Linked DNA regions of Homo sapiens. The protein of the gene in region 4 binds, or shares a complex with, the protein of the main gene of each other region. Each region holds a gene or a part of one and is shown on either strand. Other genes may lie near its edges.

Region 1 (7,024 bases), on a different chromosome or scaffold from region 4:
CATTGCTGAAAACGATATACTTCATAATTTAGACAGTTACTATTGAGCTATAAAGTAAAAATCTCATTTTGGCTATCAGTTTTTATATAAAGAAAGAAGAGTCAGGTTTAAGAAGGGTTTATAGGCCGAGTGCCATGACTCACATCTGTAATCCCAGCACTTTGGGAGGCTGAGGCAGGTGGATCACTTGAGGCCAGTTCGAAAACAGCCTGGCCAACATGGCAAAACCCCATCTCCACAAAAAGTACAAAAATTAGTCAGTCATGGTGGCGCATGCCTGTAATTTCAGCTACTCACAGCTGAAATTAGGCAGGAGGCGAAGGCAGGAGAATCGCTTTCACCCAGGAAGCAGAGGTTGCAGTGAGCTGAAATCACACCACTGCACTCCAGCCTGGGTGACAAGAGCAAAACTCCATCTCAAAAAAAAAAAAGAAAAAGAAAAAGAAGGAAAGAAAAAAAGAAAGAAAAGGTCTATAGATCCCCTTTTGTGATAGCTCAGATTTTGTGACAATTTAAGCTTACTGACAAATCTTAAAGCCTTGTGCTCAAGGGGAAAATGTTTTTCAGCATAATCTATAAGAAAACATGTAACAGCCCATTCCAAAACTTTGCTGTATGGTATATACCATTTATGAAAGCTTAGCTGCAGCAACATAAACACATTTATATAACAGCACAAGAGGGAAGGGGGAAAATACTATTTTGCCCACTTACCCTCAAATAAAAGACAAAGCCATAAATAAGACACAGCAGAACAGGATAAACACATTTTGTGCCCTTATAGACTTACTGATGCCACTTACCGCCTGGGTCATTGGGCCTTGCTTCATCTTCAGTGTAGCAGCTATGCTCCCTACAGCCACTTCTTCAGAAATTGAACTTGCTCTAAAATCCACTTCATCTTCAGCTTTCACGTCTGGCATTTCTGAAAGTGCAGGGGGGTTACAGAGTACATTTTTAAAAACTGATTCCTGTGCCTTACTATTCATACAACATGCTCCAGGTTTCATGTGTTTTGTTTTGCTTTTGCGTTAAAATGGAAAAGTATTCTTTTGTTGTCAGCGGCTAGTGTCATTTCTGACCCTATGCTGAGCTATTCCTTTATCGCATGGTTACTGGTTTTCCCTAGCCTTTGTAGGCGCTTGGAACTAAGCGAGGATCCAATTCAATGTCTTTTGAACATCCATTTCACTATTGACTTTTTATGACAAATCTGAGTGTAGCACCAACTTGCATATGGAAAACTAAATTCATAAGCTTCAGGGGAACAGATTAATAGCTGAAGCTAGGTAGTCCATCTTGGCCATCATCAAAAAAGCAAGGATTTGTACAAAACAAAAAGGAAAAAGCCACTGAGAATGAGAAAAAGCCTCTGGGACAAGTATGACTTTCACTAACATACAACACACTCTGATCCACCCATCACTGTAACCAGTAAGAATGAACTACTCAGCAGTTACGTCTTATTTTTAACCCTTATTTCTTCCAAAACTGAAACCTAATCACAGACTAGCTATCCCTTTCTTAAGAGAAACGTTTCTGCGCATGTTTTCTCAAGAATTACATAGTTGTCCTCTTGCTGGCCATGTTGACAGACCAAAAACAGTGGTGGTTTTTGTTACCTGACCACCACATGGTCAAGCAAATACAGGAAGGAAATGATAAATGATGTCTGAGGCAAATTTAGGCTTCTGACACTTCTTTAAACGGGACTCATGATTGAACAGTCAAAATTCACCTTAATAATCCAAATGCAAATGGAACTGTCATCTCGATTTCATGTGGAAATGCATCTGTGGTTATTAACCTAGTGATGCCACTACTCTGGCAAGAAAAATGCTCCCCACACTAAAGAGCACAGAAGTTTCTTTCACCAAAGAATAAATTATATTAAGATTTTATTCTAGGAGCACATGACATGTACAAAAGTCTACCTTAAATTTGTAAGAGTTACATTTCTATAGATGAACCTCTTTTCTTCCTTCTTTGACCTTATAATTATATAATCTTACCAGCAGTTTAAAAATGGGTAAACAAGTTTCCTTGCCCAAAGAACCAAAATCTGTGTTAAATTTCATAAAATGTTATTAAAGTTAAAATCTGACTAAGCAATCCCCTTAGAACTATCCCTTGATCAAAACATCTCTAAGTGAGTCAGAGTAATTTCTGGGGGGAAAGAGGGTTGCTTTCCTCTGGGGATGTGATTTTTGGTACCTCCTTCCTTTCCTATACCTATCAACTTTGAAAAGATGCATCTTGGCACAGCAACCAGTCACACTAGAAAACAGTGATTACTCACACTTGACGGGTGTCGGCAGCCTCTGCAGGACTGGCGTGGCTCAGTCATGCATCACTGATTTCCTAAGCACTGTGGTCAATGCTTTTGGTGGGTCAAGGGCCACATCCCCTTCTTTCAAACTGGCTCCTTCCAAATCAGCAGTTAAACCTATGTCTTCTCACTCACAAAACAGTATGATTAAATCTATGAGTAGAATGTAAACTTGATAGAAAATACCCTTTGGCTCTGAGATCACACTCAGGTGCTTTTTCTCTAAAGTAATGTGACCAGGGATTTTCCCAATCCTGGCCATTTTCTGAAGAAAGTACCAATTTCTTCATGACTGGCTACTTTCTCTGTAGTCTGAGACCATCAATACAGAGTTCCTCTGCAGTTTGAGACCATGAGTATGACTCCTTTTGGTAACAGGACAAGTAACTCACCTACACAAAATTTACCAACCTCAAGCCCATATATACTGCTGAAAGTCCATACATTTTTCTTCCTTCTCAAAACCTCAAAATCCTAAACATCCGTCATTTCTCACCATCTTTACTATATGTGCTAATAAAAATCAAAGTCTGAAATTCTCCCTGGTTTTTACTTTTTCTCATAGGATACTACAGACACAATCCCCACAGAGTTCACACTTGCTTGAGTCAAATTCTGACCACTGAGCCAGAAAGAGAAATAATTCCGGCCCATGTGGCCAAGGACGCAGCACCGAAATGAAAAGAACATCACCAGGCATCAGCTTACAGCCACTCCCATTCTTCTGAAATGCCAACCTGCCAGGGCCCCCAAAATAGACTTGTTGTTGTGGCTTTTTTTAAAAATTAGAGACCTCATTTAAATCCTGAGACAACAGCCAGCAAGTATCTATCACTAACAATCCAAAACATTAATAAAACTAAAAAGCTAAAGTCATCAAAAATTCTACCTCGGATTCCTTAAATCCCTCAACTGGGGAGGAAAAAGATTATAAACGGCTAAAAGCCCTTTACCAGGGAAAATAACCACTGTATTTAAATTGCGCTTCTTCCAAAGCAACTTCTTTTGCTCCATTGATTCATTTCTCTCCATAACCCTCCCCCACATTCTTAATACATATGTGTAAAGGGATTTTCAAAAATTGAAAAGAACAGCAAAAATAAACAATAAAGACAAAACAGGCTGCTTCTTACCTACAAAAGCCTAGGGGCAAGCATGGAGATAGGTCTTCTGTCTACAGCTGGTAACAGGTGGTGGTATAGAAGTGTGCATCAAACTGACCTTTAAAGACTTCAGGAGCCAAGATCGTGTCCGACTCCCGTTTCAGCTTCAGCCTCAACCCCCGTTAAGAAGTTTTATTCAGATAGTTTATTTCCACGGAGCAATAGCGGTTTCTCTTTGCTGCCTCGGAACATGGTTACCCACAGATGGAACAGGCTGCTGTGTGAGCAATCTGCTCAGTGCAGCTGCTTCACCAAGATAAAGCAGACACAAGGTCTGCCCTGTGACAGCAGCTCAGCAGACTGGGCTTGGGCGGAAATCCTGCATCCTATCCCCTGCACTGTGCAGGGTCTTGAATTCTCAGACTGCTGCCCAAAAGCAACAGGCAATGGAACTAGAGGTCCACTCCCCAAGCAGGAAAAGGAAGGAGTTCCCCGTCAACAACACCCCTAGCCCAAAAAAAACAAAAACAAACAAACAAAAAACCACCAATGACCTAATACCACCATTTTGGATGTTGGGAAGTCAGCTCAGAACAATACTTACAGCTGTTCATGAAACCACTCTGACTCTAAATTTGCTCAGAATACAGACTAGGATGATAGGGGAGGAAGGGAGTTTCAGGCTTGTAGATAAAACACAGCTTTTTGGCACTGTTTTCTATGGTACTAGAGAAAAGGATTAAGCCATGTGAATAAAAACATCTGCTAAATTCTTTCACCACTTTAGAGTACCTGTGATCTAGGCATTGTTTTCTAGGTTTGCAAAGTTGCAACCACTCCAGAATGAGACAGGAGTGTTTATAAGCTTAAGCAACCAAGCAGTAAGTCTACAATACAGGAAGCAAAATCTGTCCAACCCTGAGATGACGTGCCCCTCCTGATGGTGGTGACTATTAACTTGGCTACCTACCCAATGAGTGCAAGGCCTCAAAACAACAAAGATGCCTATATTTTTACCAGGACACCACAGTGACTCTTAAGGGAATCTGCTTCTCAGACTGTTAATTTTGTATTATGTTTTGCTTACCTGCTGCTGGCTCAGGCCCCTGGACAGGTAAAATGATCTTCTCTGGCTCCTCCCTTCCAGCAAAACATCCTGCAAGGCTCCCCGTGGCTTCCTCAGGAGTACTGCCCATTGGTAGGCTCTCCCCAGGTGGGAAAGTACTCACTTTTTCTGTAAAAGCACTCTCTAGTCCTTTAGTGAGAGGACCCAACTCAGGGCTGGACAGTGACATGTGACAGGCCTCCCCCTCAGTAAGCAGTGCTCCAGCGGCCTTGACTTGTTCGATGACAGCATCCACTATACGGCTGGCAGCCTCCTCTATCAAGTCTGCCCCCTTAGGCAGAGGTGCGTCCTGGGCAGAGACCATGCAAGGTAGAGAGGGAGTGCTCCTTTCCCTGCCTGAAGGCGGGGCTCGCATGACTTCCCTCACACCAGCTGGGGCCCCATCATCATGGGCTGAGAGCTCCATGTCTGTGGGGAGCTCCTTGGCAACAGGCTGCAGTAGGACAGGATGTGCTTCATCGTCTATTTGGGCTTCCTCAGCGTCACCCATGGTACAGCTGTGGTCTGCTCCCTCCAGCTTCCCTTTCTCCCAATCAAGAGGTATCATCTCTGGGGTTCCAACTCCCTGTGGGTCAGTCACAGCTTTGTCCTGTAGAGCCACTGGCAAACCTAGAACGGCATTCTTCTCTTGGCTCAACAAGACGTTTGGAATCAGGATGTCTTGGGTGTTGTGTGATATATTCTCTCTTCTGGGCTCAGCCATACCTTGTAGAGCATTAACCCCTGTAACATCCACCGTCACATCTCCACTCACCTCACAGGCACTAGTTTTTCCCTGGGATTGAGTGTTCTTCACTCCAACATCCAGAGGAGAAGGCTGACTGCAGTTAAGAGCATCGGACCCATCAGACCCATCTGGCAACAGACATGGCAACAGAGCGGAGCTGTTGTGCTCTGCCCCCAAGGCTTCCTGCCTTGACTCTGTGGCCAGACTTGCTCCTGGTGGCACCAGGCTCTGGGCAGCCCCACCTTGAGTCAGCAGTGAGACTTGTGGGGCCACTTCCTTGTTATGTTCAGTTTCTGCCTTAAGAAAGGCAGAGGATGCACCCGGTGAATTACTTAGCTGAAGTGCTTTGTCCTTGGCACAGTCAGCTGAGATTGATTTTTCATGAAATTGTTGAGTATCTTGTCCAGGAGGTGGTGTTCTCTGCTCTTCCTGCAAAGTTCCTGAAGAGAGAGCATTTTCCTTAATAGAGGAACAGGTCACCGCTTTATCCTTATCTTGTTCCTGAGCTGCAGAGCTTTCTGAAACCACCAGAAGTTTTCCTTCTTCAGTCAAAACTGAATCTAAAGCCAAAGTGGCCTTACCCACACTTTGCAGGGAAGAGTCAGTGTTCCCCTTGATATTCAGAGCTTCTGGGATTGCTGGAGGGGCGGGACCCTCATGCTCTCCACCAAGTCCTGTGAGACTGGTATTCCCCATCCCGTGCTGAAGCTCTGCAGCAGTGGAGGATGTGGACAGGCCTACTGCCCTGTCTTCTAGTGGCCGCGTATCAGGCTCATTCGAATTTCCATCTGGGCCATCTCTATAATCTGTAGCTGTATGTAGTTCAGGAGTTGCTGTTCCCTTTTCTTTCTGGGAGGGGACAAAAGAAAGTGCGTCATCCTTGGTTACTGATTCACTGCCTGGACTGTTTGCCAGAGAGAAAGTACTGTCTGATATTACTGCCTGGTCTGGCACCAGTTCTTTCTCCATTTTAGGGACAACTGGATGTGGATGTGAAACCACCTCAAGCATATTTGTTAAAGGTTTATCTAGTTTCACATCTTTTCGTTGGCCTTTGTTATCCACCACTTTGAAAGGACAAAAATCCGCACGTTCCTGGGTATCCCTTACAGGGTCAGAGGTGACTGTATGAGCCTGTGGGTCTTCACAGTGGGAGGCATCGGGTGGATCTTGTGAGCTGGGTTGCCTTGCTGTGGTGCTTTCGGACTCGCTAACTATGTTATCACACAGTTTTGCAACCAAATCGCCACTAGAAGTCACTGTGTTCTGTTGACATGCAGAGTCTGCACAAAGTTTATCGTCTCCAGTTGTAGAACAAATGGGTGAGGATTTGCCCTTTTGGCTTTGAGCATGAGATGAATTTGTTTCTGAGTTCTGGTGTGGCATTACATCTTCTTCCAGCCCAAGAAGGGCTAAATCTGAGGGTGACATTGCCTCACCTATGCCTGCTGCTAAGAGAGTATAAGGTTCTAATCCATCTGAAATCTTGTCTTTTGCAGCAGCTGGAATCACCACAGAATTCTGATCTACTGGAGCATCAGCACTCTCCTCACGACTTCGTGAAGTTTCCGTTTCTGCTGTTTTTTCAGTGGAGGTTTCTTCATTACTAAATGCAAGTGAAGACTCAGCAGGTTTGTTACCATCCAGGGAACTGGCAGCAGGGGCACAGTTTGGAACACTGATTTTATCCACAGGCTTACTTGTGACGTGCACGTCAGAGGCTCCAGCTGTGCCAATAT
Region 2 (6,833 bases), on a different chromosome or scaffold from region 4:
CTGGTCTCAAACTGCTGGGCTCAAACGATCCACCTGCCTCGGCCTCCCAAACTGCTGGGACTATAAGTGTGAGCCACCATGCCTGGCCTGACATAATTTGACTTAGGCATTTTGCTTGTCTGGCTCACACACCAGGTCATACCTCCCCAGGGAGTTGTGTCCATCTTGTTCAATGTTGTGTTCTCAGTGCCAGTCACACAGTAAGTGCTCAATGAATATCTGTTGAATGAATGAAGGAGCTGCCCACATCCTGGGTTTGGGTCAGCCTCTCTCTTTTTTTTCCCCCATCATCAGTATTTATTGAGCATTTACAGTGTACTAGGCACAATAGAACATACAGAAAACATTTCCCTGCCCTTGAGGAGCTTACATTTTAAAAGAAAAAATACACCTCTTTTAAAATGGCATTTTTGTTTGGTGTTTTCTGCAAAGTACCGAGGAAATATTTTGTAAAGTGATGCTTTGGGTATAACTTAGCCCCATCATTATTTAAAGAATAGAGGAAGAAGAAAGAGGAAGGATTTTAAAGGCAGACAATGACAGACCATTCAGGATAGGTAGGGTTTTAAAGGGAGATAAACACAATCTCATCGACTAAGGAGAGATTTGCTGTAGTAAATAGGATGAGGGAAATAGTCTGTGGGATGCAAGCAAAGGAAGCAGGGTGCCTTAGACATTGATTGGAGCCAGAAAGATCATGCGGCCTTTTTCCAAGTACATGGCCACCAAGTAGGAATGGTTGGTGACAAGACAGAAGGCTAAAAAAGGAAGGTAATCTTGTGCACCTGACAAATAGAAAGAATAAAGGATCAAAATCGAAGGCAGGCTACAATAGTATCAAGAAATTCTTAAAAACCAAAAAGTGATTTGGAAGCACAAAACTTATAGTTAATGCTATTGAGTCAGCCTCTCTTTACAGCCTTCTGTCACCCCAGGTCCTGCCCACCTCAGATCATGCTTGCATCCTGACTTTGGCCACAATCCTTCCCATCCAGAGACTCAGTTTCCTGCATCCACAGAGAGCAGGTTTGGGACTTTTCTCCTAGGAATCAAGGTAAGAGGCAGCCTCTTGTGACCCATGTCAAACATTTATTCTGCTTTCTGCATGGTCATGGAGTTCCCCAATCTGACTGTGCCACTTACAGACAGAAAGAAATCAAGAGATGTCACTATAGCAAGCCAGCAAGAGACCTTTGTCTCTGATGGTTCTTGATGGTACTTCTTGAGCTCCAGTGGTGCAGCTGTGCATCCCAGTCTGGCCCTCACCTGGTCCTCATGTGTGGCCCTTTTTACATCTCCAACCCATTGCCTCTGCTGTTCCTTTCCAGGGATGCTCTTCTTGCTTCTCTGCCTGGTAAGCTCCTACTGGTCCTTAAAAGTCCAGTCTCAAAATCACCTCCTCTGAGAGGCCTTCCTTGTCCCCACCCAGATGGAGATGGCTGCATCACCCAGGCACCCTCCTGGGACTTTTGCTCATGCATCTATTTATAGCACTCACATGGAGTTTTGTGATTCCTGAGCTGTTTATCGGGCTCCTGACTAATCCCCAAACTCCTTGTATGCGAGGGCCTGTCTGAGTCATCTGGCCGCCAAGGAGGTTGGCACGGGACTGGAGTCGCTTCACCCTGGTCTGTGGATGCTTTCCTCCTTCCTTTTTTCATTCCTCAAATATTTATCAGGCACCTACTATGTGCCTGGTTCTGGGCTATGCATTGGGAACACAGCAGGGAATGAGGCTCGGATGGTCTGGAGGGAGAGCTGTGTTAAAAACTGAGTCAGTAACAAAGACATCAGCAGCATAAGTGTTGTGCCTCAGTCTGGGGACCATGATGAGAAGGCCTCTTAGGGGTGTTCATTTAGGAAGCGGTCTGAGGGATGAGAGGGAACCAGCCCCAGGAGGCTTGAGTGGAAGAATGTTCTGGGCAGGAGCAGCAAGGGTGAAGCTGCTGCGGCAGGACCATCCCTGGCACATTTGAGGGGCAATACTGAGACTCTTGAACATCCCAAGAAGCAGAGTGCACAAGGCGGAGTGTGGCCTTGTGCAGAAGTCAAGGCTGTTGGCCAGTGCCTGAACCCAGAAAACTCGCTGGACTAGCCTTGCAGTTCTGGTAGAAAGGAAGCTGCTCCTGGATGCCCATTTTACAGACGGATAAGCACAGGTCACCAGGGATGATATGGCAAGGATGGAGGCAGCCCACAGTGTTTTCAAACTCACATTTCCTGGGCACCTAGTGAGTGCCAAGCCCTAGGCCAGGTGTTTCCACTCCTGAACTCATGAAACGCTTTCAGAGACCTTATTGTCCCCATGGGATAGGTAAACTGAGGCACAGAGCTGCTCAGTGACTTCTTTAAGGTCATCCAGCTAGTAAGTGGAGGAATTGGTATTGGAACCCATACCTATCTGAGCCCCAGACTCATGATTTTCCATCCCACTGCCTGGGAAGGGTGAACAGGAGACGCAGGAAGAGAATGGTGATGGCTGCAAGGCTTCCCTCTTATCTCCTGTGGCTCCCCACTCTGTGCATGGGGCCCTGCATCACCCCCACTTTACACCTGGGCAAGCAGAGGTCAGGCCCGGCCTCAAGCCTTTCTAGCAGGTGGTGGAATCTGCTTCCCTCACGTGAGGTCCCTGACAGGGTACACATGTCTGCCTGGAGGCCAGGGGCTGACCCCTTGACCTTTGCCTGGTACATTCTGCCTTCACTAGCCCTGGCTTTACATCCAGAGTCATCTGTTCCCAGCGCCAGATTGGTCAGCGGTTCCTGAAATCCCCCGAGGTTCCGTGTGGGAGCAGAGGGAGGACTGGCCCATCCAGCCATTATGCAGATGGGCAGACTGAGATCCTAGGAGGAGAGGAGAGAACGAAGGTCCAGGAGAGAGCCAGGATGGGGCCTCGGGGCTCGCGGGATAAAATGCACCGCATGCCGCCTCACTCCCTCTGAGACACGGTTTCCCCCTGTGTAGAACAGGGGCAGCAGTAACCAGCCACGAAAACTCCTCGTGCTGCCTCGTCACCGGGCATCGCTGAGCTCACCACCGACCCCGCGCCCTGGCCGGGCGCCTGGAGCGCGGGCGCGGGCGACGTTTGCTGGCGCCAGGCCCTCAGTGCGTGTTAGCGAGCAGCGCCGGGAGATAGCTGTCACCGCCGCCCGCTCACAGATGCGTAGACTGAGGCTCAGGTGTCACCACCTGACCAAGGCTAGTTCCGCTACAAAGCTGCCGACTCGGATCCGAACCCGGGTCCAATTTACAGAAAAGGAAACTGAGGCCCAGAGACACTAGGGAGCTTGCTAGGGTGAGGCAGCTGCAGGTTCAGAGAGCCAGGAGGCAGCCCAGCAGCGCACTTTTAACCCCCGCCCACTTCGGCAGGCCCAGCCGTGCCACCTTTAGGGATCTCGGGTTTTTTCCAGACGACGCACCCAGGAGAACGCGCCCGCGCATCGCACCCGCCGGGGCTGCGGGTCTGGGGGTGCCGGGCTGGGCCTGGGCGCCTGCAGGGAGCAGCGGGCTCAGTGGGTCCCGGGAGTGGGTGGGGCTTGCATGTTGACGGGCAGCGCGAGGGGCGCGGCTTTAGTCCAGGGGGCGGAGCCTGACCGGACCTGGGTTTTTCGGGCGGCTGGCGGACTTGACAGAGAGCGGGAGGGGCCCGGATCCTGGGCCTAAGGAGGGTGGGGCGTGTGCTTGACAGGCAGGGACAGGCCGGCGTCTGATAGGCAGAGGACGGGCCTTGGAAACGAAAGGACCAATCGGGCACGCAGGGGCGGGGCCTGAGTCAGCGCAGTTCGGCCGGGGTCTCCCCGGCGCTGCCCAGTCTGTCTCCGGCGCCGCCCGTCGCGGACTCGTCCTTGCTGCAGTCGCCGCCGCAGTCCTCGCCGCAGTCGCCGCCGCCGCCGCCGCCGCCGCCGCTGCTCCTCCGCCTGGCCTGGGCCGTCTGCCCGCAGCCATGAGCGTGCTCGGCCCCGGTGGAGCCCGCAGTCCTCTAGATTAGTCTCCACCGCCGTCCAGGACCCACTTGCAGCATGGAGTCGCCCGCCTCGAGCCAGCCCGCCAGCATGCCCCAGTCCAAAGGTAGGCGCTCCCGGCCGGGACCTCGGCCTGACCCCGCGCCTAATCTGGGGCCGGGCTGCAAACCCCGACCTTTCTTTGGTCCCACCCCATCCTGTTCTCGACCTGGCAGCGGCGTCCGGTCCCGGAACCCCTTCCTGTTCGGGGTCCCGGGACCAGCCCCCGCCTGGGCCCTCACCTGGACCCCCACGTTAGGCCTTGGGACTGCACTCAGGCCCGAGATCACCCAGGCTGGACCCAGACTAGGACTTTGTTCTGCTCACCCCATCCAAGTCAGGAGCCTCATTCTGACCTCATTTGGGCCTTATGGCTGCAGCCTGGACATGAACTCTCCCAGTCTTCTCCCTCAGCGGGACCCAGGTGAGATTCACACTGGCCTTCACCTGGGTCCTTGGGCAGCACCCAGTCCCATTTCTAGCTTCGGGTCCCAGGGCTGTATCCAGGTTGGGATTTAACTTGAGTCTCCATCTGGGCCCCAGAGTGCTCCTGTTGTTGCGGACCTCACTGTACCCCCTATGCGGGTGCTCTGGCTACACCCCAGCTCGGAACTCCCCGTCCTTCTCTCCCCCAGCTCTTCTTATCCTTATAGGCCCTATGTTGCCCCTTCCCTGGCTGGCCTGCACCCTGTCCTGCAGCCCTGGGCTCCCAGGAACCTTCCTTGTCCTCCCACCCCTCCCTAAGGTACAGCCCCCTCTCTACCGGCCTCTCTCTGTCTTGAGTTGCAAGCTTCTCCCTGCACTGGGGGTTCTCACCCCATCTTATTCTTGTCCTGGCTGCCTGGGATCTGGGCCAGCCGCCAGGCCAGGGTGCTGGCTGTGCAAGGGATTTGCTCTTCTCCAAGTAGCTGGCCTTCCTGGAAATTTTTGTGAGGTGGCAGCAGCAGGATTTGTCATGCGGAGGGGGAAGGATGAAACTCGGAGGGCAAAAGGGGAATTTTTTTTTTTTCAGGAAGAGGAAAGGATGTTTTTGGTGCGTCGGAGTTTCAGTAGGCTGGGTTGTGCGAGAGATTTCCAAACCGGACATAGCCGTAATGAATGGGCTGCCTCCTGGCTTTCTGAACCTGCAGCTGCTTCACCCCAGCAAGCTCCCTGGTGTCTCTGGGCCTCAGTTTCCTTTTCTGTAAATTGGAAGTAATCGCACCTGCTTCTGTGGACGTGGGAGTGTGGTGTGGGGTGGTGAATAGTAAAGAGCTCTGAGGCGTTCTCTCAGCGTAGCACCTGGCGCAGAGCCGGTGCTCACCAGGGTACACTGGCTGCACACATCTCGCTATTGTTTCCATTCTTCTTGCTGGAAAGGCCTCCACTGCTGGAAGTGCAGCCTCAGAGTGAGCAGGAGGAAGCACCTAGCAGCGGGCACCTAGTGGGCACTTCATCAGGGGTCAGCCGCTCTTCTGTTCTGGAGGGTGCAGGCCAATGGGAGCCCTATGTGGGCCTGGGGAGGGCATGGGCTCTTCCTGGCCCCTGCTGCTGGCTGCTATGGTGGCTGGAGCCGGGTGGGCTGGATAATTATGCCTTACATAAGTGGGAGGCCGGATCCCTGACCATTGCCCAACCACTGTGAGTAACTCGGGAGGCACTCGACGGGGGAGGTGTCTGGGGAGGGACTTGCACTGCACAGACCTCGTGGAGCTTGGGAACCAGGAAATCAGACACTTCTCCACTCTGGAGAGCTCGGGGAAGGGTAGGAAGCACTGTTTGTTTTGGAGGCTTTTTAGCTCTCCAGGCAGAGAATGCCTCATCAAAATAAAAGTTCCAGTTGCAGAGTTGTGAAAGGAGAGGGGTCATAGATGCAGTGAGAATGCTGTGAGAGGGCCAAAATGAACTTCTAGATGTGGACCCAGGTCCTAGATGAGGTTGAGGGGGCTGGATGGAGGGTCAGGGACCTCCCTCAGGCCCAGGGACTCTGTAGTCTCTTTGGGGTCTGGGGAAGGATGTGGTGGCAGAGCCACAATGCCCTTCACCAAAAACCCTATGAGCTCCTTCTTTTTTTCCATGTGCCATGCATTTTCTCATTTATTCCTCATAGCCCCATTTACTGATAAGGAAACTGAGGCGTTAAGTGCCTTGCCTGAGGCCACACAGCTGTGACAGGCGGAGCTAGGGTTCCCCCTAGGACTGTGTTTCCACAGTGGCCTTCCCCGTGCTCCCCTATGTGCCCCTCCCATGCTGGATGCCTGAGCTGAGCTGGTGGGGTGCCCCCACCCCTGGCCTTGCTCAGAGCATGTGCAGTGGGCCTGTCCTCATGGCCACGTCAGACCTAGAGGACAGACTGAGGCAGAGGTGATGCCTCTCCTGTGCACAGCGCTTTACACTGGGCCTGTTGCATTCTCGCTGCAAAATCCCACTCATTTGACAGATGCAGAACTCAGCTTGGATGGAGGAGTGGCCGGACTGCCCCCATAGGTGGAGAGCCTCACTCTGTGCCCACCCCATCCTGGGCACTGGGCCTCCCAGCACTGATCCCTTCTCCACCTTCTCAAAGGAATTTGAACAAAGCAGGGAGTGGCTGGCGCTTGACCTTACTGGAGCTTTACCTTTGAGCTTCCTGCCTGGCAGCAGGTGCCCTGCACTGTTTCCATGCCATGGGCCTGGGGAGTTTTCTATGAGTGTGTGAGGCCCTCAGGCCCACAGCTCTGCTGGTTTTCCCCTGGCCTCCTTGCCCACATGGCCATCTCTGGCTGGGGTTAGAGGCCAAGTGGCTGGCGCTGGGGCCAGTGGGTGGGGGCATGTGTGCAAGCCACATTTGTCCTTGGAGGGTACCACACGTGT
Region 3 (7,024 bases), on a different chromosome or scaffold from region 4:
TTCAAGCAGTGCGATCTCGGCTCACTGCAACATCTGCCTCCCGGGTTCAAGCGATTCTCCTGCCTCAGCCTCCCGAGTAGCTGGGACTACAGGCACATGCCACTATTCTTGGCTAATTTTTTGTATTTTTAGTAGAGACGGGGTTTCTCCATGTTGGCCAGGATGGTCTCGATCTCCTGACCTTGTGATCCACCTGCCTCAGCCTCCCAAAGTACTGGGATTAAAGGCTTGAGCCACTGCACCCAGCCTAATTTAAGTGACCTTTCTTTACACAGCTATTTTTGGCTTGCTACTCAGTTTTTCAAAATAGAACAATACATTATTTGGGGATTTATTTTAAAAGATGCTAAAACATTAAAGAAAGGCAAAGAGATGATTTACACAAAAGTCAAGCCAGTGTTTACCTCTAGCAGTTGCAGTTAAAGAAGGCCCCAGGTACTGGCAACATCCTGTTTTTTAACCTGGGTGATGGGAACAGTTTACACTATACATATGAAATATACACACTCTTCTGTATGCATGGTGCATTTCCCAATTTAAAAAATGTTTAAGTTAATATTGTTATAGGAATCAGGCAATTCAGAGCTCAGTCTGACACCTCAGCCCTATCAACTTTAACAGTTGCATGAGTCAGACGGACAGCTGGTATTACAGCTGGTGTTACCAGCCTCAGGTTTCCTAACAACTGCTATGCCCAACTGAGCAAGTTTACCACACAAAGCCCCCACATTTTATGACAGACAGAGAATAGCACAAGCTCTGGAGGAAAACAGGCCTGGATTCAAATTCTAGCTGGGCCGCTTCCCAGATGGGCGATTTGGGCAGTTTCTTCATTGTTAAGAAACAGTGTAGTCACACTATACCCTTGTGAGGCTTAAATAAAACAATACAGGGAATGGACTGGGTACAGTGTCTGGCACACAGTAGGAATTCACTCAGTCAATAGTAGCAATGGGTATTTTTGGAATTTAGTTCTTTAACTTGCATTTTGTTTCATTCCACAGCATTTTCTGTCCCTAACCTGCAATCAATGACAACTACTTCTTTATAGGAAATTAAAAGGCCATTTGGGAAGACATGTTGGTTGGATATACCACAAGCACCATCCAAATGAAATCAGTAAGGCCACTAAGGGAAGGCCACCAAATCAGAGTCACAGAATGTCAGAGCTCAAAGGGAGCTCAGAGAGAGCTGGATTCTAAAGGCTTAAACCTCAGGCAGTGCAATCCTTTCAAAATCTCCTGCTCTCCTCAGATCTGTTGTCTCCCATCCCTGCTACCCACTCAGCTCAGTCCCAACCTTCAATGTTTGCTTTTGCTGTCTATTTAGCCCTTTCTTAAGATGAATTCTTAGCTCATTAAAATTCAGCCTTAGATGGGCGCAGTGGCTCATGCCTGTAATCCCAGCACTTTGGGAAGCCGAGGGAGGAGGATTACTTGAGCCCAGGAGTTTGAGACCTCAACATAGCAAGACCCTGTGTCTACAAAAAAAAAATTAGCCTGGTATGGTGGTGCTAGCCTGTGTCCCACCTACTTGGAAGGCTGAGGCGGGAGGATCACTTCAGCCCAGAAGTTCGAGACTTCAGTGATTTATGATCGTGCTACTGCACTCCAGCAGCCTGGGTGACACAGTGAGACCCCCATCTCAAATAAATAAATAAACAAATAAATAAACAAATGCCTTCCTTCTTTCCTAATCTAGGCACCTAAGGTTGTAAATTTCCCCCTATGTCCTGCTTTAGCTGCATCCAATAGATTTTGATAAATAATATTCTCATTATTGTATGGTTCTGAATATTTTCTGATTTCCATCATGATTTCTTCTTTGACCCATGAGTTATCCCATTTCTTTTCTTCACCAATCCATGTACTTCCTCTGTTCACATCCTGTCTTCTCTGGGCCCTAGGGATCTAGGCTACCTTCTCCAAACCCCTCAGACCATCTGTACCACATCACATTGCTGAACTTTTAAAGATGACAAGACACAATCTTGTAACTTCTCAGATGGGCTGATTCAATTCCCCTAACAAATTATAAGAGAAACTAAGGTCAGTCCAATAACGAATATGTCTTCTGTACGTGCAACTAATCAGAGAGGACTGCACCACTTCTGCTCTGTAAATACCTAGCCATGTGAGCCAGCTTTAGTGCAGCCTTGAAGACAAATTTATTTATGTCATCAATCTCAATCTAGGGTTATCCAGACTCATGTGAACAACACATACATTTTTGGAAAACAGACAAAAACAAAAACTAAAATGTTCCCCAACCCAGCCCATTTTAACACTGCAGTGTCATTCTAATTCAATCATTCATTCAGTAACTCACTTATTTCATCAACAAATGTTTATGGAGTACCTACCGTGTGCAAAGCTCTATGAACACAACAAACTTTAAGCAAATATGTATGAAGCACCTAATAGATTCTGGCTGAATAAATGAATGATGGATGAATAAGTCAATGACCAGTGCTGGCCAATTGGTCCAGCACTGGCCCCCTCATTAACTACTGTGAGCTTATTCAAACTACTTTCCTTGGTCTCAACTTCCCGATTTATAAAGTGGAATGTTAATGATTGTTCCATCTGCCTCTCAGGAGCCCTAAGAATCACTATTTGGAAGAAAACAAAAGAGTTTCAAAAATACTCAGTGGTCATTTCTCTGACCTTCTGGTCTCTGCTGAGTTACTACATTCTCAGGGGCTGTTATATACCAACTCTGAACATCTATGATCTAATGCAATTTCATGTCAGAAATCCTACATAAACATTTAAGCTATATTAGTTTATAATATGCTATGTTAATTATAAAATAAATTCAATATACTGCAGTGTTATGGTCTGTTGTGCTGTTAATTTAAAACAGACAGAAATAAAAGTGTACAAGTACAGAGTATCACTCATAACAGAAATAATAAATAGCAGCCAGTGGTAATAGACACTATCCTAAGCATTACTCAAATTAACTCACTGAATCCTCCCAAGAGCCTTATAGGATAGGCACCATTTGACTATTAACATTGTTTTGTAGATGAGGAAACTGAAACAAGGGAGACTGAGGCTGGAGAGGCTCCATAGGGAAGCCTGAGATCACACAGGGTTGACCTTGAGCCTGCACCATTCTGGCTCCAGAATCTGAGTTCCTGGCCACCACACACTTCCTCTCGGCAGAAGTGTTCTGTTGGCCAGGCAAAGTGGCTCATGCCTGCAATCCCAACAGTTTGGGAGGCCAAGGCGGGAGGATTGCTTAAAGCCAGGAGCTGGAGACCAGCCTGGGCAACATAGCAACACCCCATCTCTAAAAGAAAAAAAAAAAATTAGCTGTTCATGGTGGTACAGCAGCCGTAGTCCCAGCTACTCTAAGGCCAGAAGATCACTTGAGCGCAGGAATTCAAGGCTACAGTGAGCTATGATTGTGCCACTGCATTCTAGCCAGGGTAACAGAGTGAGAAAAAGAAAAGAAAAGAAGAAAGAAAGAGTTGTACGTTTCCTGCCAAGAGTCAAGAGCAAATTTTACCTGCCTGGCTACCTTTTTAGGGGAAATCCCATGGACCAAGTTACCCCACAGGCTGACTTCATGAGGACAAATCAGTCTTGGTGACTAAGCACCCCTTTCCTGAGAACTCTGTGATGCACACCAGGAGTGCCTCACCCTCTGGGACGGTGTGAAGATCGGCAACCTGATTTCATCACATTCATACTGGCTGACGAAACCCCGCTCCCATGCCAGGTCCAGCATGTTCTCCACATGGCTGTGGAGCCTCCTGACAATGGCTGGCCGGTGACTCTGCAGGTCTCGGGCTGGGTGGAGCGAGTGGGGGTCCCAGCAGCCATGCAGCTTGGGGGACTGGCTGTCGGCCTGGGCTTCTTGGGCAGCCGCGATGAGCTTCTGACAGGCCCAAGTACCCTTATTCCAGACGGTGTCCAGAAGGCGCCTGGCCAAGTGGGAGAGAGGCTGGCCCAGGAGGTGGAAGCCCTCGTAGTCCTCCCAGGAGAGGACCTCCCAGGACAGCAGCCAGTCCAGGACACTCTCGAAGCCTTCCAGGGACCCTGAGACCAGCAGCTCGACCAGCTGGCTCCTCTGTGCCTGAAAAGCCTCCTGCGAGCACATTTCACAACCTGGGGAGGAGAACAAGGTCAGTGCGGGACTTCTCCAGAAGCCAGATGCAGGGTGGTCAGGGAAGGCCAGGGCAAGTCAGCCCCAGCAGAACCCGAGTTGGCCATGGTTCTAGCCTCAGACATTACCCAATCCAAGCTCCCCACCATATAGATGTGAAAATTGAGACCCAGAGAAGGCAAGAAACACCTCAAGGTTCCACAGAGTTTGAAGCAACCAAGAATTAAATCAAGACCCCTAACTCCCATATCCATGCTTGGTCTCCGGCTTAAAACGTTTAAAAAGGCTTGAGGTAATATTAGGAGCAAGAGATCTCCCAAGGTCACTTGAGATCAGGAGCGCTAGACCAGCCCGGCCAACACGGTGAAACGCTGTCTCTACTAAAAATACAAAAATTAGCCAGGCGTGGTGGCGAGCGCCTGTAATCCCAGCTACTCAGGAGGCTGAGACAGGAGAATCACTTGAACCCGGGAGGCAGAGGTTGCAGTGAGCCAAGATGGCACCATTGCGCTCCAGCCTGGGCAAGAGAGCAAGACCGTTTCTCAAAAAAAAAAAAAAAAGACAGAGAGAGAGAGAGAGATCTTCCAAACAATCAGGGAATTCATTCTCTTCGAAGCAGGGTGAGAGGGGCTCTTTCATGCTGGCTGGATTCAGGCTACAGCAGTTTCAGTAACGGCTAATATTAATTAAGCATAAACTACACACCAAGTGCCATTCTAAGTGCTCTCCTGCAGGAATTCACTGAACCCTCCCAGCCACTCTGAAGTAGTGCCTATGATCTACCCATTCTACAGAGGAAGACACTGAGGCACCAAGAAGCTAAGTGATTTGTACGATGTGTCACAGCTAGACAGGCAGAGTCAGGATTTCAACACGAGCCATGTATGACTCCGGAATGCATGTCTCTAACTCTTACATTTGGGTTCCCCACGGGGGCCCCAAGCCCGTGCTGTGTGTTTTGCACACTGCTACTCCAAGGGGTAGACTCAGAATATTGCTCTAAAGGTCCTGTCCTAGGCGAAGTGAAAAATTACGGTGCAAACTAAGTTGTTTCCGAGCGTTCTGGTGCCTTGTCCCCCATCAACACTTCCCACACACACTTGCCCTAGGGCCCTCACCTCCCTCCCACGCCCTCGAAACCACCGTGCACAGACTGCTGCCACTGCTATCATCAGTGACCTGCTGTGCGTTCTGGGAATTTGAGGGCAAGTGACCCTCCAGGAGCTTCAAGCCCTGGCAGGGTCCCTGAGCAGCCAAGAAAATCTCTCAGCATGGTCAGTTCTGCGATTGTCATGGGGTCTGTGGACAAGGGCTGCTGCAGTGCCCCGAAGAAACGAAAGTGAAAGGGTGTAGGCATGGACAACAAAGAGGGCCGTCAGCTTCTTTTTATAAATCAGGGACATTCCCAGACACTCAAGGGAGCAGATGCCAAGTGGCCTGGGGATTTTACCTCTTTCCTGATGGTTGTTTATGTGTCTCTCTCCCTGCCTGGGCCACGTGGGAGCCTGGGTCTTACTCGTCCTGGCATCCCTGAGCCTGGCACAGCATTGTCCCCCACAAAGACACTGAGGGAATGTTCATGAATCAAATATCCCCTGGGCTGGGGGTGGGGGGAACACTCTGTATCCGTCCTCATACGGTAGCCAAGGTAAGCAAAAGGAGAAAGCTCCAATCTCTCAGAACGCTGCTGGGGCACAGGGGGCCCTGTGCTGGTCAGATGGGGAAACTGAGGCAATGAGGTTACTTGTGTGTCTGGCTGCTTGGGAGAGAGGGTGTACCCCCCTGCAGAGGCCACTGGAAGCCAGGATCTAAGGTAGTTCTCTCAGGCCAAGGAGTTCTCCTCCTTGTGCCCACATCTAAGCAGAGGAGCCAAGAGGGTGGGGTGGCCGAGGACAGGGGAAGAGAGGACAAAAAAGGGTAGAATAAGCTCTGGGCTTGGCCCTGGAGTGGTTCTCAGCTGTGGAAACACCAGCCAAGGATGCGACAGCGGCCCCCACCATTGACCCTGCCCAGGTCCTGGGGAAAAAAACCCGCCGACCCATTCTCCCCAGAAAACAGCCCAGAAACAGAGTCAGCACTCCCCATCTGACCCCAGGCCTGGGAGCATGTCGCGGCCAAGGATGAAAGAAGGCTGAGGATCAAGCTGGGACGGGACAATGCCTGCTCCTCTTACCCGGAGAATGTCCGAGGAGGACACTTGCTCTTTCCTCCTCATCGTGAGAGGCTGAACCACCCTCTTCCCCCATCAAAGCCCATTAGGCTGGGGGAGCAGGCATGGCATCTGCGGGTAGGCCTTGTGCAGAACGCCAAAAGCCCAGTGGCACAGGACTGGTGAGCCTGGATCTGTCTACCAACCCCACCTTCAAGGGAAATTCCCAAAGGAAAAGCCGGAGGCCAGAGTTGGCCAACCAGCCTTCCAGAACTAGGCAATTCCAAGCAATTCTGGCACAAAGCCTTGTGCATCCTGGAGACCATGACCCTCACTGAAAAACCCCACTGGGGACATGAGACACATTCACGAGGGGACAGGCCACAAGTAAGTAGGGGCCCCTCCCTTGCACACCAAGCCTAGGGCAGCCTGGCCTACGTGTGAGCCATACACACCCCAGCTAGTGACGTTGGGCTTCTGTGGACACCAGGAAGGGGAGGCCCGCCCAAGCCACGTGACTCGGAGCTCTGTCCTCCCAGCAGCTACATCACCACACCTCTGCCCTGGCCTTCTTCCAGAAACCTCAGAGCAGAGAGAATCCTGAGGGCCAATTCAGCCAGGCCCTGTCTCTGAGCAGGCATTGTCCTGTCTCATCTTAAACATCTGGGGAGGAGAACCTGGCCTTAGTGCTGTTCTCACTAACCAGCTCAGGAAGCTCACCAGCTTGGGAAGTTAATCATTATGTCTAGCTTCAGTTTC
Region 4 (7,601 bases):
ATCAGTTCTCAAAATGCAGCCTGGGGACCCTTTGGGGGGTTTGCAAGGTCAGAACTCTTCATAAAAATATTGACACTCTCTCATGAGTGTACAGTGGAATTTCCCAGAGGATATATGTAGTATGATATTGGAATAGATTAAATTCAGAAGCAGATATTAGAATCCAACTTTTGTCTACTAAGCTAAACGTTAAAGAGATTTGCAAAAATGTAAAACAATGGTATTCTTTCAGTTTTTAAAAATCTGGGGCAATGGTTATTTTTCACTAAAATGTTATTTATGTTAACATAGATAGGCTTATTGGCTTATTATTTTTAAATGGATTAATTTCTAATTTTTTTTTTTTTTGAGACGGAGTCTTGCCCTGTAGCCCAGGCTGGCGTGCAGTGGCACCATCTCAGTTCATTGCAACCTCTGCCTCCCAAGTCCTGCTTCAAGCAATTCTCCTGCTTCAGCCTCCCGAGTAGCTGGGATTACAGGCACCTGCCACCAGGCCCAGCTAATTTTTGTATTTTTAGTAGAGACGGGGTTTCACCATGTTGGCCAGGCTGGTCTCGAACTCCTGACCTTGTGATCAACCTGCCTCAGCCTCCCAAAGTGCTGAGATTACAGCCGTGAGCCGCCGTGCCCAGCTTTAATTTCTAATATAATAAATTTGATAGATATGACTCACTTAAAAGCTATTTGGCATCCTCAATGACTTTTTTAGAGTGTAACGGAGTCCTGAGACCAAAAAGTTTGAGAACTGCTTGATTTGAAAAAACAAGCCTAAAGTCTACCTTTTGCTCCCTGAGGGAAGGCAAGTTGCCCAACTTTTCCAAGACTTTTTCTGGCCCCATAGCATGGGATGATGACTTAAAACTACCTGCTAGGGTTATTGTGAAGACTAAATGGGAAGACGTCTGTGTAAAACTCTTAATTCAGTGCATGGCGTATGACTGTTCAGTAAATATTAACCATCTATTATTATTATTGCTTCTGCTATTACTGTTACCACTACTATGAGGGCTATTACTCCCTGCTGGTGATGTCTTTACTCAGATACATGAAGAACTTATTCTTTGAACTTGCTAAATGCTCTCAGGCCATTGCACTTGTTTCCTTTGCCTGGAATATCTTTCCCTCCTTTTTGTCCAGCAAATCCTCTTCATTTCTTCTTGTATTAACTTCGAGCTTCTTTGATTTAGAAGCCTTCATTGACCTCTCAAAACTATGCTAGGTACCCTGCTGTAAGCCCCAATCTTTGCCCCTTTAAGAGCATACCATAGTGTAATTGCTCGTGTCTTTGCTGGCTCTTCCATTGCACTCCGAAAACTCTGTGAGAGAGGGGACCATGCTTGTTCACTGCTATAATCATAAAGCTCTGCACAGTGCCTGGCAGTCAGTAAATGCCTGTTGAATACATTTTGTAAAAGTCTTCAATATGTCTTCTTGCCACACCGCTCCTTTCATGTCCCAGGGTGCCTAAATAAGCTCGATATCCTGCATATTCCTGTAAATCTCTTTGATCCTCAAGTTAGATGTAAACACTAAACTCAAACAATGATCTGGGCTTCATTTATGATTTTAAGGCAATGGTTAAATGACTTAAAGGATGTTTGATTATATACCTTAATTTCCCAGGGATTCAGAGTTGTACAGGAGGTAAAGCCTTGGTCTTTGCATAAAAGTTGGGTAATTCTTAGCTATGATCCAGGCATAGACTATTCACAAGTTAAGATGGAAAACTAAGACGGCTAGAGAAAATGCCCCTGGGTGCCAGCTTGTGCCATAACTCTTACCACTATAAGAGGAGGGGAGGATAAAGACTGCTTTCTTCCTTTTAAGTTGCCATTCCTTCTGCCATTCGTAGAATTTATGTCTGCACTTTTCTCATCCACTGATAGCTAGTGGCAGTTTCAGAATATCTATTTGAAGAGGGGCTTAGAAGAAACAGTCCCATTGAATAGGGGGATAGGAAAGTTTTTCCTTAAGCTATATTTATATTTTTCAACTTAGATTGCATGTTTATTTTGGAGAATGTTCTTGGATATAAGAGGGTGCTAAGGACTTCCAAGCCACCTCACTGCTAAGAGTACATCTATTTTTAGTGTGGAAACATTTGAAGTAAAGGAATAGGCAGGTTTGATAAGAGAAGTTTGACTAGGTCTCTTTTGTTATTGCTTTTCACACGGGTAAACCTAAACTCTGCCTGGTGAGCATTAACCAATTCAAAAAAGATTTGAAAGTTCAAAAAAGCAGTCGGTGTTGAGAATACATACTAGACCATATTTATTAGGTCTGGGGCCTAAAAAGATCAGTATAATCAATAGGAAACAGGCAGCTTGACAAAAGAAAAACCAAACTTGAGGCAATCAGTTTATCATACAATCATTATATATTTATTTCAGCTATGGACAATACATATGCAGATACCACACAATATAAGATGTGACCTCAAAGGGCTTGCAACCTATTTGGGAAGACAAGAAAATGTCTACTAGATTATCATTTAAGCATGTTTCTGAAACTAATCTTTAGTGTTCATTGTTCCTGCTGGTTATTCTCTTGGCCTAATTATGTGAGGAAAACAGAATGAAGGCAAAGGGATGGGAAGCAAGGGCAATGTGGCTAAAAATATTGATGCTCTTAAGCCATGTGTTCCAAATTTAAAGCAATACATTCATGGTTTTAAAGCTGGAACCTGCAACTAACTTCTAATTAGTCCCTCTTATTTTACAGAGGAGGAAACTGTGGCCTATCCTGCAAAGCACTCTAGCTGATAACTGGTAGCTCTAAGACCAGAAGTCAGGTTCTCTGACTCTCAGTCTAGGGTCCTTTCCAAAACAAACAAGTGCCTCTGAAGGTAAGGTAAAATGACTGGAGTCTTCCTATGCCTGGGGTCTATGCTAAAGAGCCTTAGTTTTTCCTTGAATGGATAGGATGGAATTATTTGAATTATTTTATTAGACCTGCATTATACATTTTTTTAGCATGGCAATTTTCATCAATTCTAATTTCTCAGTTACCAAAATAAAATTTATTAATGCTAAAATCTCCAGTCCTTATCAAAGGGCAAATTAATCAGACTAATAAATTGTTTTTTAACCTCTACTCATTCATCCCTCAACTTTCATATCTTTAACCTATTGAATGACTTACAAATTTTCTATTTCACTCTTGACCTCTTTCCTGAATTTCAGTTTCATATTTCAGTTGCTGCATCTCTACCTGTTTTTACTCCTATGACCTCAAACTCAACATGAAGCCAGCTTCCCTTTCACGTATTCCTATTTTTGTCAATGACACCATCATTCTTCCAGTCATCCAGGTCTGAGATCTTGGCATCATCTCTCTTCTTCTTCTCTTCTAAATCTTGTGGGTTACCAATTTCTGTGGCCTCTTGCTGAAACGTTTAATATTTCTCTCAATTCCATTTCTTCTTTTTTTTTTTTTTTTTTTTTTTTTTTTTTTTTTGAGACAGAGTCTCACTTTCATCCAGGCTGGAGTGCAGTGGCGCGACTGTGGTTCACTTTAGCCTCGACTTCCCCAGCTCAAGCGATTCTCCCACCTCAGCCTCCCGAGTAGCTGGGACTATAGATGTATGCCACCACATCAGGCTAATTTTCTGATTTTTTTGGAGATGAGGTCTCACTGTGTTACCCAGCCAGGTCTCAAGCAATCCTCTCAGCTTGGCCTCCCAAAGTGCTGGGATTACAGGTACCATGCCCAGCCCATTTCTTCTTTTTAATTCCATTTCCTACATCCTAACTCAGGTCCTCATGATCCCACAACCGGGTGGTGACAATATCTACTACTCATCCTGGTTCCATCCTAGCAACCCAACCTACAACTACTGTGGACTACTCTCTCAAAATTACCATTTAAACAGAATCACAAACCCCCATTTCACCCCTTTGATTCTAATTTTTCACAGCTCCCAGTGTCCATGGATAATAAAATTCAAATTCAAAATCCTGAATAATGTTGCCCATGCCCTTGCAACCTCCTCTCACTTTTCCTTCACAGAACCATCCTCCCCAATCAGAAATTTCTTTTCTTCCCAACGCCCACCTCCACCTTTGGCTTAGGCCTGTAACGGACTCTGGCTCCTCTTCTGAATTCTGCTCTGTTAAAATTAGCAACTAGAGCAGCAGACCACGGCCCCTCCTCAAAATTCCAGAGGTACCTACTGATCTTTCTAGAGAGGCAGCCTTCAGACCTATGTTCCCAGAAATCTCTACGTTTGTGCCTTTCCCAACTAGAGAATTAACTCTTGCGGGGCACAAAACAGCCTCTATTTCTTTGCGTCCCCAGCGCCTGTTTGTTGAAGACTGAGTTGAAGGAGTAGCAGGTGGTGTTAATTTGTCAAAAAGATGAGTTAAGGTGCTGGGGGCGAGGGGGAACACCCCCACGGCCCTCCCCCCACAGCAAGGCAGGTGTGTCTGGGGGCCTCGGCGGGTGCCGGGGCGCGGGGCGGATGGTGCCCCCCGGGCGCAGGCCAGGGAGGCCCGAGCGCCTTCCCCACGCCCCGCTCGCCCGCGCGTGTGAGGGGAGGGCGGCCCAGCCGTTTCGCGCCGGGAGGTAGGTGGTGCTGTTGCCGTGACTGTCTTCCTCATTGGCGCCGTGCAGAGAGGCGGAATGTTCAACTCCTAACTGCAGCGGAAACGTGGGAGCCGCGCGGGCCGCTGTCGTCCCAACCCCCGCCGCCCTCGTCGCGCGCGGGGCCTCCGCGCCCCCGGCTGCTGCTCACGCCCCGCCCGGGAGCCAGGTAGGGGTCAGGCTGGAGCCCGCGGAGGGCGGGGAGGGAGGGGGCGAGGCCCGCCGCGCTCGCGAGTCGTCCCTGCGTCTCGGGGCCGAGGCTCCGCCGGAGCCCGGGAGTCTAGGCGGCCTCGGGAGGCTCCTCGGGGCTCCCCTCCCCGACCCAGGGCCCGCCCGGCGGCGGCGGCCGGAGCGAGCGGGCGGGCGAGCGAGCGAGCGTTCGCGGCGCCCGGGAAGTCCTCGCGGGACCTTGGCCGCGGCGCCGCCAAGTGCGGTTCGGGAGAGTTCGGGCCGGTCCCATGGAGAAGTTGGCGCCTGGAGGCGCGGGCGCAGGCCGGAGCGGCCCCGGCTTTCGCGGTCCCGGGCGTGCGGCACGGGCAGGGGCTCCGCGAGCAGCAGAGCCGGCCAAGCAGCGGGTGACTGGGGCACTGTCGGGAGGCGAACCGCGAGGCCCCCAAATCAGGGTAGGGTGCAGGCCACTTCCCAGCACTCGCTGTGCGTGCGAGGAGGGACGACGAACTTCTGCTTTTCTAAGAACTCGACCGCGAGCGGTGTTGCTTCCCATCCATTTTCCTTCATTCTGTTTTCCTCACACAATTAGGCCATGCGAATAACCAGCAGGAACAATGAACACTAAAGATTAGTTTTAAAAACATGCGTAAATGTATCCAGAGCCACCGCTCCCCGCCCTTCCTGCCCCGGGCTTGGGCAGCATGAAGCGCCCGCCCTCTCGGGCTTCCCCCTTTCCTCCCACCGGAGCCGGGGATGTCTCCTTTGGCGACCCTCAGGCAGCGGCTTTTTGTGGGCTCCCAGACCTGCACCAGGCCCAGAAGTGCTTACCCAGGCCGTCGCCTCGTCTGGCCTCGCTTGCCCATGACAGCTTTCAGAAAACTTTAATTCAGGACTGGCTAGATGACATCCGATTGCCTAAAAAATTTTTTTAAAAAGTTATCTCTGTTAGATCGCTGAAAATGTTATGTTTCTGATGCGCTTTGAGATCGCGCATAAGTACTGTTTATGGGGAACTTAATTACTATTTTTGTTAGTTTCTGTAATAATGAAAGCAACACAATTTAGGGGCCCATTCCAAGTATGGTACAGTAAGCAGCTCTCGATACTGGTGTGTGAGAATCGTCTTACAGAGTGAATTTGAGGATGTTTGACTTAAGATTGTTGAAAACTGTACTCCTTCTTTAACCCCGAAGCTGTTTTGGAAGAGCCTTCTTGCTTCCTCGACCTTCGTTGAAATGAACAGCTAGGATTTAGTGGATCCAAACCTCCAAACACGTTTAAAGACAAAAATAAACAAGTGATTCAAGGCTAGTTAATGTCCTCTTTGTAGTAGGCCTATCTCCACAGTGAAATTTCACTTGTTTTTCAATTTTCCAAAAAAAAAAAAAAAAAAAAGTGATGGCTGCATTTTAATTATGGTTATGGTCATTTGTAGAGTCTTTGTTTTAAATTCCTGCTACTATAGTGAGAGATTTAGGAGATTGTAAATGAATACGAATTTAGTTTGGGAAAACAGAATTAAGATAAAGAAAAATGGTCTTTTGGACCACTGCACTGTTTATTTTAATCTATCACAATTTAATTCCTACTATAACTTTTTGAGATTATTTGGGGAGTTTTTTAACTACAAAATATTGTTTAAATAAAAAAATTTAGTGATAATAATTCCAGAGTAAATGACCATGATGCAATTGCAAGGACTTTCTCCGTTGTCTAAAAAAGCAAATAGATGATTGATCCGTTTTTCTTAATCTTTTAGGGAATATATAAGGACACAGTAAAGAGAGAAAAAAAAATCCAAATATTAAACACTCGGACTTGGATCTAAAAATGGATGGTCAAAGATCTTGGGAACTAAGGGGCCTTCTTGCCAAATAAGGAAACTTGGCAAGTTGCACTGTGTATTTTAACTTAGCACAAGAGTGAGTGTTATTGGCAATATATTGGCTCAGAGCCTATCTGGAATGAGCAGTGAAACTGACTTTGATAGGGCTACAAAATTATAAATAGGTTTGTGGGGGCGTGGAGTGAATAATCGAATCATCAGAGAAAACACTGAAAACTTTTCATGAAAATAAGTCAGATGTAAGGTGAAGCTATTAGTGTGGAGTGACAGAGCAAAATGGACAGTTTATTTTAGAAAGTGGTAGATTCAGAAGAGAGGAGAGAATCAGTGGTTTTTTTGTTTTTGTTTTGTTTTTGTTTTTGTTTAAACTGGAAAAAGATGTTTGTGGGGATATAATACTTCTTGGAATAAGATAGCCCTATGTCTGTATCCTGAGATGTTGGAAATAAAAATGAATTTAGATCACTTGTTTTCCATTTTATTCTACCCAGGACAGATTGACAGGGTGAGTATCTTGTCTATCTAAATGTAGTAGGAACAGTTAAGGCACCTTTTGGTCTTACTGCAAGGAAGATTTAGGCTAGTTTTTTGGTAGCTATTAACTTTGCCCCACTAGACACAAATAAGCAGAGTTCCAGCTGTGACCAGAAAATTGTACCTGGTAAGGGAAGAGGACTATGAATGCTAGAGCTTAGATTGATTCGACTGATACATGGGTGCTTTTATGTCAGACCCTCCTACGGATGCTGAAGCATCGTCCTAATAGCTGTTAAGTAATCCCAGCACAGTAGAAGAATCTGTGAGAACAAAGCAGCCCCACATTTGACACCCTAACCCCAGTGTCTTCAATTGTAATAGGAAATTAAAGCCTCAAATTGAACTTTAGGTGGATGGTGAGCAATCCAGTAATTACTGTAATAAGAAAATAGTTTAAATAGGGTAAACAAAAGGCAAATTAGAAGGAGGAGGCAGAATGTTATTAACAAAAAGACATGATATGGTA

What was found.
Region 1: MAP3K20 (region 4) and AKAP13 share a complex: the UniProt entries of both Homo sapiens proteins name them as parts of the signaling complex.
Region 2: MAP3K20 (region 4) and MAP2K3 share a complex: the UniProt entries of both Homo sapiens proteins name them as parts of the signaling complex.
Region 3: MAP3K20 (region 4) and NOD2 share a complex: the UniProt entries of both Homo sapiens proteins name them as parts of the signaling complex.

The regions. Positions count from the first base shown.
Region 1 is NC_000015.10:85,579,603-85,586,626, reverse strand, and holds part of AKAP13 (A-kinase anchor protein 13), read right to left. Parts: coding exon 4,520-7,024; intron 926-4,519; coding exon 804-925; intron 1-803. UniProt on the Homo sapiens protein: Scaffold protein that plays an important role in assembling signaling complexes downstream of several types of G protein-coupled receptors.
Region 2 is NC_000017.11:21,280,902-21,287,734, forward strand, and holds the start of MAP2K3 (dual specificity mitogen-activated protein kinase kinase 3), read left to right. Parts: upstream 1-3,809; 5' UTR 3,810-4,019; coding exon 4,020-4,068; coding exon of another isoform or gene 4,069-4,425; intron 4,426-6,833. UniProt on the Homo sapiens protein: Dual specificity kinase. Is activated by cytokines and environmental stress in vivo. Catalyzes the concomitant phosphorylation of a threonine and a tyrosine residue in the MAP kinase p38.
Region 3 is NC_000016.10:50,696,582-50,703,605, reverse strand, and holds part of NOD2 (nucleotide-binding oligomerization domain-containing protein 2), read right to left. Parts: intron 6,659-7,024; exon of another isoform or gene 6,363-6,658; coding exon of another isoform or gene 6,290-6,362; intron 4,227-6,289; exon of another isoform or gene 4,119-4,226; coding exon of another isoform or gene 4,111-4,118; coding exon 3,652-4,110; intron 3,637-3,651; exon of another isoform or gene 3,529-3,636; intron 1-3,528. UniProt on the Homo sapiens protein: Pattern recognition receptor (PRR) that detects bacterial peptidoglycan fragments and other danger signals and plays an important role in gastrointestinal immunity.
Region 4 is NC_000002.12:173,071,253-173,078,853, forward strand, and holds the start of MAP3K20 (mitogen-activated protein kinase kinase kinase 20), read left to right. Parts: upstream 1-4,593; 5' UTR 4,594-4,750; intron 4,751-4,818; exon of another isoform or gene 4,819-5,204; intron 5,205-7,601. UniProt on the Homo sapiens protein: Stress-activated component of a protein kinase signal transduction cascade that promotes programmed cell death in response to various stress, such as ribosomal stress, osmotic shock and ionizing radiation.